Regions from separate parts of the Homo sapiens genome. Here region 1 is linked to region 2. The links come from fine-mapping of genetic effects on gene expression. Tissue or cell type: fibroblasts. Region 2 holds a variant in brackets; the other region holds the start of a gene. All regions are shown on one strand. Distances are from middle to middle.

Evidence for each region. PIP is the estimated chance that this variant, and not a neighbour inherited with it, causes the effect.
Region 1: SGMS2 starts here. The variant in region 2 is fine-mapped to the expression of SGMS2 in fibroblasts (GTEx, PIP 0.93).

What each region holds. Positions count from the first base shown.
Region 1 is chr4:107,822,144-107,827,272 of GRCh38, reverse strand. It overlaps SGMS2 (sphingomyelin synthase 2), which reads right to left and starts at 2,341. Exons shown (of 7, transcript NM_001375905.1): 1 at 2,020-2,341. RefSeq lists an enhancer at 1-123.
Region 2 is chr4:107,894,301-107,899,513 of GRCh38, reverse strand. It overlaps SGMS2 (sphingomyelin synthase 2), which reads right to left. Exons shown (of 7, transcript NM_001375905.1): 3 at 3,506-4,204. The coding sequence starts at 3,960. All of the region lies in intron 1 of CYP2U1-AS1 (CYP2U1 and SGMS2 antisense RNA 1), which reads left to right. Among named protein-coding and RNA genes, the nearest start is that of CYP2U1, 35 kb to the left of the region's middle. The variant G/C (reference allele first, on the strand shown) is at 2,523.

The sequences.
Region 1 (5,129 bases), 72 kb after region 2:
AAATAAATATCTGATACTAGTAGTTCAAGACAAAGCCTTCAATTTCTCCATTGAGACAACACGCTAAAGGTGGGTAAGTCATTGTTTAGTCTAAAACTGTCCAAAACTCTCAGTAATTATTCCTTTAAAAAAGAAACATCTCACCTCAAAGCATCACTTTTAAAAAAAGTTCTCACTGATACTCCATTGTCTATTTTAATAGTTCTAAGATTATTTCTATTTTTCCCCTATATTTTGTTTAAAGTCCCACAAAAATCCCAAAGAGTTTAAGTAAACTTGCTCAAAGGAACACAGCTCAGAGAGCCTCAGGTCTCCTGGATTCCCATGTCCATGATCTCACTACACGGTACTGTCGTAGGACAGCTCCCAGATCTTTCACCCTGTAAGTTGTTATAGTTATGGTAAGAGCAAATGTCTTCAATAACGTGCACAAGTGCTAAAGTTTCTTCCAAACATTTCCTAGGGCTTTTATGAGATTCTGCGAGGGGAGAAACTCAGAACAAGGTGCAGCCACCTCAAGGTGTCCAAGTGTTTCCCTCTAGGTTCACAAGTCAACTAGCTTTACTTAAAAATGAAACCAAAGGAACCAAATTAAACATTAACTTGTTAAAAAAAAAAACACTTCAACCAGACTATTGTGAAGTAAGAACATTAGAAGACCAAGGAAAGGGCCATAAAGAGGAAATTTTGCACTGCTTGCACTGCTTCTTTAGGAAAAAAAAAAGGTAAAGGTAAAGTTAGCTTCCTCACGTCCTTTCTTCCTGTAAATTCCAGGTTGTCACTTTCAGCCATTGCTCTGACATTGTTTAAACAGTAAATGGCAGTTCCCATGACACAGGATGGAAACCATAACCTTCTCAGGTATCCGTACTAAAAATGTTTAACTTGCTGAAAACATCACTTCCCAATCTAAGGAACTTGCCAAAGGATTTCACATGCTAACCCTCGGCCCACCAGGCTTATAAGGAGGACATTCTGTGGAAATTAATTGGTTATTACCTAAGCCAGCTGCAACACACTATTATTTATATATAAACAGCTATAATTTGTTGGGGTCTGCTTTGTACCAGACATTATGAGAAGTCTTTTGCGCTTTAATCCTCATTATTATCCTCATTATTAATCCTTATTTAATCCACCTTATTATCTGAAGTAGCTATAATCCCATTTTACTGGTTCAGAATGTTTAATGTGCCTGAGCACCCACCGTTAATAGAGGAGACTGGTAATGAAACCAAGGATTTGAAAAGTTAGGTACAGATTGAAAACCCACGCCGAATCCAGTGACACTAAACAGTTGAATCTCTTCAAAATATAACACACATGTCAAAATGATTTTAAGGTCATTTCAGAGCAGGCAAGACTTGAAATAGAGGACCGGCAACATTAATAAATAAAAAAGACTACAGGACATAACATTTTGAGTTGGTTTCAAGCCGTGGATAATTAATGATTATCCATACCTCTGGATGGATGTTGACAGGGGTTCCCCGCCCCTTATTTTCGCTGAGAAACCAAGTCTTCCCTTCCGTAAAGGGAGCAGCTCTGGAATGCCACACGTTGAAGGGTTTCGGTGTGGGCTGCCCAGAGCTGGGCTGTTACTGTTCACACATCATCAGTAAGTGCCTCTCAAAAAAAAAAAAAAAAAAAAAGAGAAAGAAAAGAAAAACCACACACACAAACACACACACACAGTCCCTCCTCCACCAACTGAACTTCAGCCCTGACCTCCGGAGTGGTTCTGGACAATCTGGGGTTTAACCTGTGCCCTTCCAACGCCAGGACCGGGGTACCCGAAATGGGTTGCAAATGAATGAGATGACTGCTCAGAGGAAGGAGACTAAGGCACACATCTCTCCTCCAGACCACAAAATCGAGGAAGCATGCCCTGGGCGGGGAGGGTGGGGGCCGGATTAGAGCCACGTCCCCGCTTCGCAATCCACCTTTCCCCTCCCGCGCTTCGGAGGACTCTCCGCTCCCCAGCCCATCCTCCTCCTGGCCCCTCCGCGCGCTCCTTACCCGCTGGTGGCCAGGGCTCCAGACACTCCCAGCTGAAGGCACTTGCTCCCGGGAAGGGGATTTGCCAGGGGATGGAGCCCGCTGCCGCAGCCGCCGCGACCAGCCCCGGGCGTCACCACCCTCGGGCCGAAGCCGCTAGAAAGTTTGCTCGGGGTCTCGCCCTCCCACGCCGCGGCCTGACTAGGGGAAGCAGCTCTCCGGGTCCCTCCCGCGGCCGCCGCCCCCGAGGCCGCACTCGGCGGCGCTGCAGCACCGGCCAGGCTCCGTGCGCGCCGAGGGCTGGGTCTCCCCGCCCCACTCGGCCCACGGCGCGGCGCTCAGTGTTGACCGCGGCCCCGCGCCCGCTCTCCCCGCCCGCCGCGCGCGGCCCGCTCCCTGCGCCCTGCGCCCAGCGCGCTCTTGACATCATTCATTCTCTCACACCCTCGCCCGCCCACTCCATTTCCAAACAGTGACTCACCCGTCGGCCCGGTGGCAGCAGTGCCCGTTCCTGCTGCCGTGGCTCTCCTGGCGCAGAGTGGAGCTCGAAAAACCTGCGCGACTTCTTAAGAAGAAAATCCCAGCCGACTCTCCCCTCGCGGCTGTTTAAGGTGCAGAGAAGGAGGGGCTTGGCAGGCAGGGCAGTTTGGCTCCCGGCCGAAAGGCTGAGGGCCTGGAGCTGACCTCCCTGAGCGGCAACAGAGATCAATCTGGGAAAGTTCTTTGGGTGCCACTCCCAGCAACTTTCAGGGGTGGGGCTGGAACGGGATCCCCCACCCCCGCACCCGGCCTGTTTCGGAAACTGCTTCCTGACGGCGTGTGAGTGGGCTTGGGAGCGCCAGCGTTGATTCAGAGGGTTTATCGGTGTTGACCGGGCCTAGGTCAAAGAGGTGGGTTTCCAAACCTCACAGCGTTGCCTGGCAAGGTTAGTCATCAGTCCGCATGGTATGAGCTGGAAGGTTGCTCCAAGCTAATGAGGTGGCAGCACTGTCCCTTTCGTGCCTAACCATCGTGTCATTTGTCCTGTTAATTGATTTACTTCTCACTTAAGGAATCGTAACCAAAATAAACAGTGTAAGTAGTTATTTGCTTAACTGAATACTGCGCTTTTCCGCAGCTTTTGGGGCCCAAGGCAGCCGTGTGGTTTCTTCGAAGGCCTCAGTAGTTTTTTAAAAGGGGGATTGCTGTCTTTAAAATGGTAATGGTTCTACATTGTCCTGGAGTTGCTATTCATACACCTGCTGGGCAGTTTTCAAAGTAAACGATGGCAGCCTCAAGGACTCTAACTAGGAATGACCAATCCGAGGGAATGTGGCTAAATCTTTCTTGACATAAGTTTTACATTAATGTCTCCTTCTGGACAAGATAATTATGTTTAGGATTTGCGCTGGTTTATGGGTGCTTCCATATAATCAACAAAAATAATGACGGGAATCTTTGGGTTTCTAGTGCAGATATCATGTGGGTCAACAGTCATTTGTGGCTATTAAAGATGATGGTAACAGAAAAGAATATACAAGGCAGGCAATCCCCAAACTCGCAACTTCAAGATGTCGTCACAGTACAGGCAACCAAAGAAAATGGACAAATGGGATCATATTAAGCTAAAAAGCTTCTGCACAGCAAAGGAAACAAACTGAAGAGACAACCCACAGAATGGGAACTATCCATCTGACAAGGGATTAATAACCAGAATATATGAGGAGCTCCAACAACTCTATAGGAAAAAAAAATCTAATAGTCCGAGTAATAAATGGGCAAAAGATTTGAATAGACATTTCTCAAAAGAAGACATACAAATAGCAAACAGGTATATGAAAAGGTGCTCAGGCAATAAATACTGGCGAGGTTGTGGAAAAAAAAAGGAACCCTTGTGTTTGTGGGAATGTAAAAAGTATAACCACTATGGAGAACAGTATGGAAGTTCCTCATAAAACTAAAAATAGAGATACCGTATGACCTAGCAATCTCACTGCTAGGTATATATGCCCAAAAAAGGAAATCAGTGTATCAAAGAGATACCTGCACTCCTATGTTTATTGCAGCACTACTCACAATAGCCAAGGTTTGGAAGCAACCTAAGTGTCCATCAACAGATGAATGGATAAATCGTTACATATACCCATGGAGTACTATTCAGCCATAACAAAGAATGAGATCCTGGCATTTGCAACAACATAGATGGAACTAGAGGTCATTATGTTAAGTGAAATAAGCCAGGCACAGAAAGACAAATTTCACATGTTCTCACTTATTCATGGGAGCTAACATTTAAAACAATTGAACTCATGGAGACAGTAGAATGATGGTTACCAGAGGCTGGGAAGGGTAGGGGGGATGGGTAATGGGTAAAAAATATATATATAGTTAGATAGAATGAATAAGGTATAGTATTTGATAGCAAAACAGGGCAACTACAGGCAACAGTAATTGTGCATTTTAAAATAACTAAGAATATAATTGGTTTGTAACATAAAGAAAGGATAAATGTTTGAGATGGTAGATATCCCATTTACTCTGATGTGATTATTATGCATTATGTGCCTATATCAAAATATTGTGTGTACCCCATAAATATACCTACTATGTACCTACAAAAATTAAATTTAAAAAAATTTTTTTGAGATGGAGTCTTGCTCTGTCGCCTGGGCTGGAGTGCAGTGGCTTAATCTCAGCTCACTGCAACCTCCACCTCCTGGGTTCAAGCAATTCTCCTGCCTCAGCCTCCCGAGTAGCTGGGATTACAGGTGTGTGCCACCAACCCTGGCTAATTTTTGTATTTTTAGCAGAGACAGGGTCTCAACATGTTAGTCAGGCTGTTCTCGAACTCTTGACCTTGCGATCCACCCTTCTCGGCCTCGCAAAGTGCTGGGATTTACAGACATGAGCCACTGTGCCCGGTCCCCCCAAATTTTTAAAATATAAAACCAAAAAAAGATGTTGTCACAATACAGAAGTTTCCCCCAAATGAAAATGCTCCTAAAATTAACCAAGGGCTCAACATCATTGTTGTGGAAAATGGACTCTTTTAGAGCTACTTTTAAAGGTTAGAACCCAGAGGAGACCACCAATCGAAAGTTATTGTCCTGGGGTTTATTTTTCCCCTTCAATAAGGAGCTCATTTTCAAATT
Region 2 (5,213 bases):
AAATAAAACAATGTTTAACAGGATAAAGAATAATCAGTACAGAATGGCATTAACAAACAAACCACAGTTTCACAGAGTTTAAAGGCTTACTTTTGAGTTGCCCATCCCTACAGTTTCATGGAGAGATTTGCACCACAGTTTTCAGAAATGAAGATTCACATACTGCAATAAATCTAGGTGGTTTGGCTTCCAAAGGATGTGTGTGTGTGGGGTGGGGGAACTAAAGTAGACGAAGAGTCTACATAGTCACCTCTCCTCAAAAGCACTCTTTGCCAGAGAATGAACCTGTCTGTATTTTCAGTCAACTCACTGCATTAAAACCCTTTCTTGAGAACATATGAAAGGAATAAGCAAGCCACAGTAACAGAGGAATTAACTAATGAGCCAAGGTGACATTACATAATTAGACACATAGGGAAATGTGACAACACATTTAGCCCACGGTATATAAGCAGGGTTTATTTGAGGACCATCTGAAGGTATTTTGACAATACGGGCATGAACTATTTTCTCTATGACTAGATTTTCAAAAAACTCTATCTTGAAAATGTCCAAAGTGTTCTCATACAGTTAATTACATTTAATAGTGAATGTGTAAGCTGATTATTTCATTCAATCTTGATCAAAAAAAGGATAAAAAAATCCCACAAGTCATTTTTCACTTTATATTTTTGTGAGAAGAACGTTGTCCTAACATCAGCCCCTGTGCTTCATGACCTGAGTCCTCAGCCTGAGGCAGGCTTCCCAGTGGATGACGGAGGATCCTGTCTTCAAAAGGGAAGGGCTCTGCCACTGTACCATTGCCTCATGGGTATCTGAATGGGCATCATGGGTCTGAATGTCTTTAGTCCAGCTGAACAGGACAGCTCCTTTTCTGTTGTATAGTTAGGTCTGTCAGCTCTGGGCTCTGGGGATTAAGAGATGAGTGGGACTCCACATAAAGCCCCTAGACTTGCTAGGTGTAACTTCATTACTGCATAAAACATATTACTCTAGGTCTCTCATTTTCAGAGGTCTCAAGCTTTCAAGACTGGTAGTGATCAAAGACTTCTGAAAAAACAGGCAGTTTCAGGTAATGTGACATATTTTAAGTTTTCCCTAAGATTGTGGTTCTGACATGAATCAAGGTCTAATTCAGATAACATTTGGAACTTCTAATTTCAAGAATTATGTATAAATATATATTTCAGCTGTCTGTTTCCAACAGCTATTTTAAGAATATTCCAAGGTTTCTGGGGTCAAAAAAAAAATAGAAGGGAACACCACCTAGACTAGTAGATGAGAGTATTTATTTATCCCCAAGGAATTTCTTTAAAGGCTTGCTATTCTAGTTCTGCCTTTCCTGGTACTAAAAAGGAGCAGGTAATAAACAGTGCTGAGTTTCTTCCCTTGGTTAAGGGAAAACCAATTTAGCCTTTGATCCAACCTCAGGTTCCAACAGAGTGCTGTTTTGAATTGTGCTCCATGCTGTTAGACAAGGGGAAGTAATAAGCAGAAATTATTATGAGTCAATTACATTCATTCCAGCATTCTGAGTTCAGCTGTACTCAGAACAGAAAACCAACTTAGAAGGTGAAAGATGTACTCTACAGCCTTATTTAGAAAAAGAACTAGTGCTAATGACTTTTTCCCATAGCTTTGAAAGGTGCTTTTAAAAGAGAGAGCAAGCAACATTCCTCATTCAGCTGGGATGTTCAAAACAGGTTATAAAAATTATTCTACTAGTTACTAAAATGTAAGATCCAATTCTACTTCAAATGTAAAAAGGCAAACTTGTGTGAATTGCGACTGAAACAGTGGATATCATTAAAATTTATGGTCTGGCTATGTGACCGTGTGTTTGGACATGTTGAAAATCTAAGGTGGTAGGTAGAGGCAGTTAATAATAACTATCTAATGAAAATTCAAAAAGGATCTAGATGAAAATACAGCTAAATTGAGGGAAAGACTGTACTTCAGGGTGGAGTCCACATACTTACCAGATTCTGGACAATTTCTCTTTTCACACATATATCAATAAAACCTTGCTCTAAATAAAGGAGAAAGCAAATTATCTGCCGCCTTAGCAGGCTCTTACATTGTGTTAATTTCCAGACACTAAAGAGAAAAACACTGAAGTTCATAAATACATTTTTTGCTTTTAGCATAAAGCATCCTTTAACAATTTCAGGAGCAGGTTACTTTTTTAAGTAAAAGACAACTCATAGCTAAGTCTATTACTTAAGCATATTAAGGAAACACATGAAGAGTTATATTAAGGAAAATGCTTAGGAATGACTGCAGTTTGTGGAATAAGGTTTTAAGACTGCAAAGTTGCATTTGGGGAACTCTTTAACAAAGATAGACTGAATTCCTCTAATCACAAAACAGTAACAGTGTTAGGGTCTGAGTGGATATACCACATTGAGAGTTCTATAATTGATCAAGTAATGAAAAGTGTTACCAACTAAAAAACAATACAGCCAAAATTCTCTAAGAATGATCTTGTGGCATTAATACTGAAATCCTATTTGACTTGGAAT[G/C]TTCAGATTGTATCCAAGTTAGCATACATTACATTTTTAAACTCTGTATTATGGTCAGTGTTTTGATCAAAATCATATTTTAGTGATTTAATCACTACCATCCCAGTGGAAAACAAATGTCTAAATGATGAATGAGAGGAAAGGAGGAATTAAGGAGCCTTCGTTTTTATGGACTAGGAGTCAGAATTCACATAGAGAAGCAGAAATAACCACTTCAGGGCTATGTCCAATTCTTAAGTGTCTTCAAAGCAAAAGTACCTGACTTATTTCTTCTTGATTTCCTACTATTCCAAAAATGAGGAGGCTGAACCCAGTGAACCATGAGCTCCTTTGTGGTGTCCAAGGAAAATCAGAGGGCAAGTTTACTTTAGAAATCTAAAAATCAAAACCGCATGGATCTGGTTCTAAACTCAGTCTCTTAAACACTTGTAACTAGATAGCAAGCAAACAAAAAACCGAAACCACATCCACACACCCAGCCCCACAGAAATGTAAAATTTGAGAATTGAATCTAGGCAAACCTTAAAGCAGGCTATTGACTCTAGACCAATACAGACATCACATTATGAGTAATGGAGAAAAAAGTTTCTCAACCTATTCCTTTTCCCACTTGTCAAGAGCCTGAAATAACAAACATGATGGGAGTGAATGTTATTCCTTTCCAAGCCTCTTGATTTATCATACAAATACCATAGCACCAAGTTGCTGGAAGTCAGGAACTGCACCTTAAATTCATCAACTCTGAGTCATCCACCACAGTACTGCTGTACACTGCCACTTTCATACACAGTTGCTCATCAAACACTTACTGAATAGTGACTGAATTTATTCAATGTGGTAGAGCTTTCTACTGTTTTCTTTCATCAAATGTTTGGGTAAGACTGAATTTATTGGGGGAAAAAAAGGAAAAATAATCTCAATAACCCATCTATTCACTCAAAAACAAACCCATGACAAATCCTCAAAACATTAGATTTACTTACTTGTATCTCAGAAACAGCCACTGGGTGATCCATAATCCAACTAATATAATCCCATTTATTTCTGATACAGAAAATGCCCATTTCACCCTATCAATGTAATCAAAAAACTTGTCTGGGAGTGGAGGGCTAAGCTCCTTGGGAGGGACCCTCTCATGTACAACTGTGATCATGACGGTTGTCAAGACGAGGTTGAAAACTGCATATATGAAGGCAATGCCCGTTTTCCACCACTCTAGTGGAAATTTGTTCCTTGATTCAGTGGGCATAGCAATTTGGATATAGTCCGGGTACTTTTTGGTGCCTTTTCGCAGCCCACTGGATAAGCTCTTGGGTTTACCATTGCCATTTTTGTTTTCTTCTTCAACAGGTTCAGCGGGTCTTGCATAAGTGTTCGTAGGATCACTGGGTTGATTTTCCAAATGTTCTTCAAGTTTTGCTGTCTCTATGATATCCATTGTCCCCTAGTCTTCAGATCAAAAAGGAGATGGTCAAGTTCTTGTTCTTTGTGGAAATTTAGCTTTTTTCAATCCTTCTATTTCCAAGATCAACATGGACTCTTACAATGGACTTTGTTTCCTAATACAAAATGTAGAAGGTAGCCATCCGATTACTGTTTCTTCCATGCAGCTATATGCTGTACCTTCACCACTTTCAAGAAAGGAAGCCAATTCTTCCCTCAAAAAGATGTTACTATCCCACCTAAAAGCAAAACAAAATTATGTTCAGAAACTATGCTTGTCCAACTGTCAACCATCCAAAACAGAAACATTCTTAAACTAAGGAAACAAATACCAAAGCCATTTGCTTTATAAATGTAACGTCAGAACCTAGTTAAAGCTGCTGAGATCAAGTTTATTTACAAAATACTGAACAGTTTTATCTTGGAATTCTTGTCTCTTTTTGAGCTAGTATTGGTAGAAATAGGAACATTTTAACAATCAGTTCCCTTTAAATTTCCTTAAAGAAAAATCAGGACCTAACATTGCAAACACTTCATCAGACACTATCACTTGTTGCTAACCATGAAGTCATAATAAGCTAGAAATTACCCAGAGATCACATCAATCCTTCCTAAGACTGTATTTTCTATGAGCCATAAAGAAAGAATAAAAAACTGGTAAGAGGCTTATATGCATTGAATAATTGTTACTCTTCATTTGTCAAAATAGTCAATTTTCTATTTTCTAATTAAAAAACAGAAGTCTTTTTAAGTGACCGCTTTTAAGAACAGATTCAAGAACAACACATTCAAGATTTTTAAAATGGCACAGCCTCAGTTTATCCTTTTATATTCAGAGACGCACACCATATACAAGAAAAGCTGGCAGCCTTCAAAATAACTCTGAAAAGATACACCAAGCCTTAGCTATGTCTCTCACGCAGGTAACAAGTAGAATTTATTTGAAGGATAAAAATACCTCACTACAATTGGCATGATAAATTAGTAACTAACAATATTTTGATTCAGCTACCACAATTTCTACCAAACAACAGAAACGGGCCTCCAGAGGACCAGCTCAGGGGACTCACCCACCACGACACTGATGAGGATAACTACCTTTGGCTTCAGCTCCACAGGCTCCAGAGAGCACACACTTCTTTCGGACACGGGGCACCACTGCCACCTCTTTTATACTTGCTAGCACACAGCCCCAGCTGTTCTCAATTTAGGAGAGCAGTCTTTTAGTCCTGCTACAGAAACCAGCCA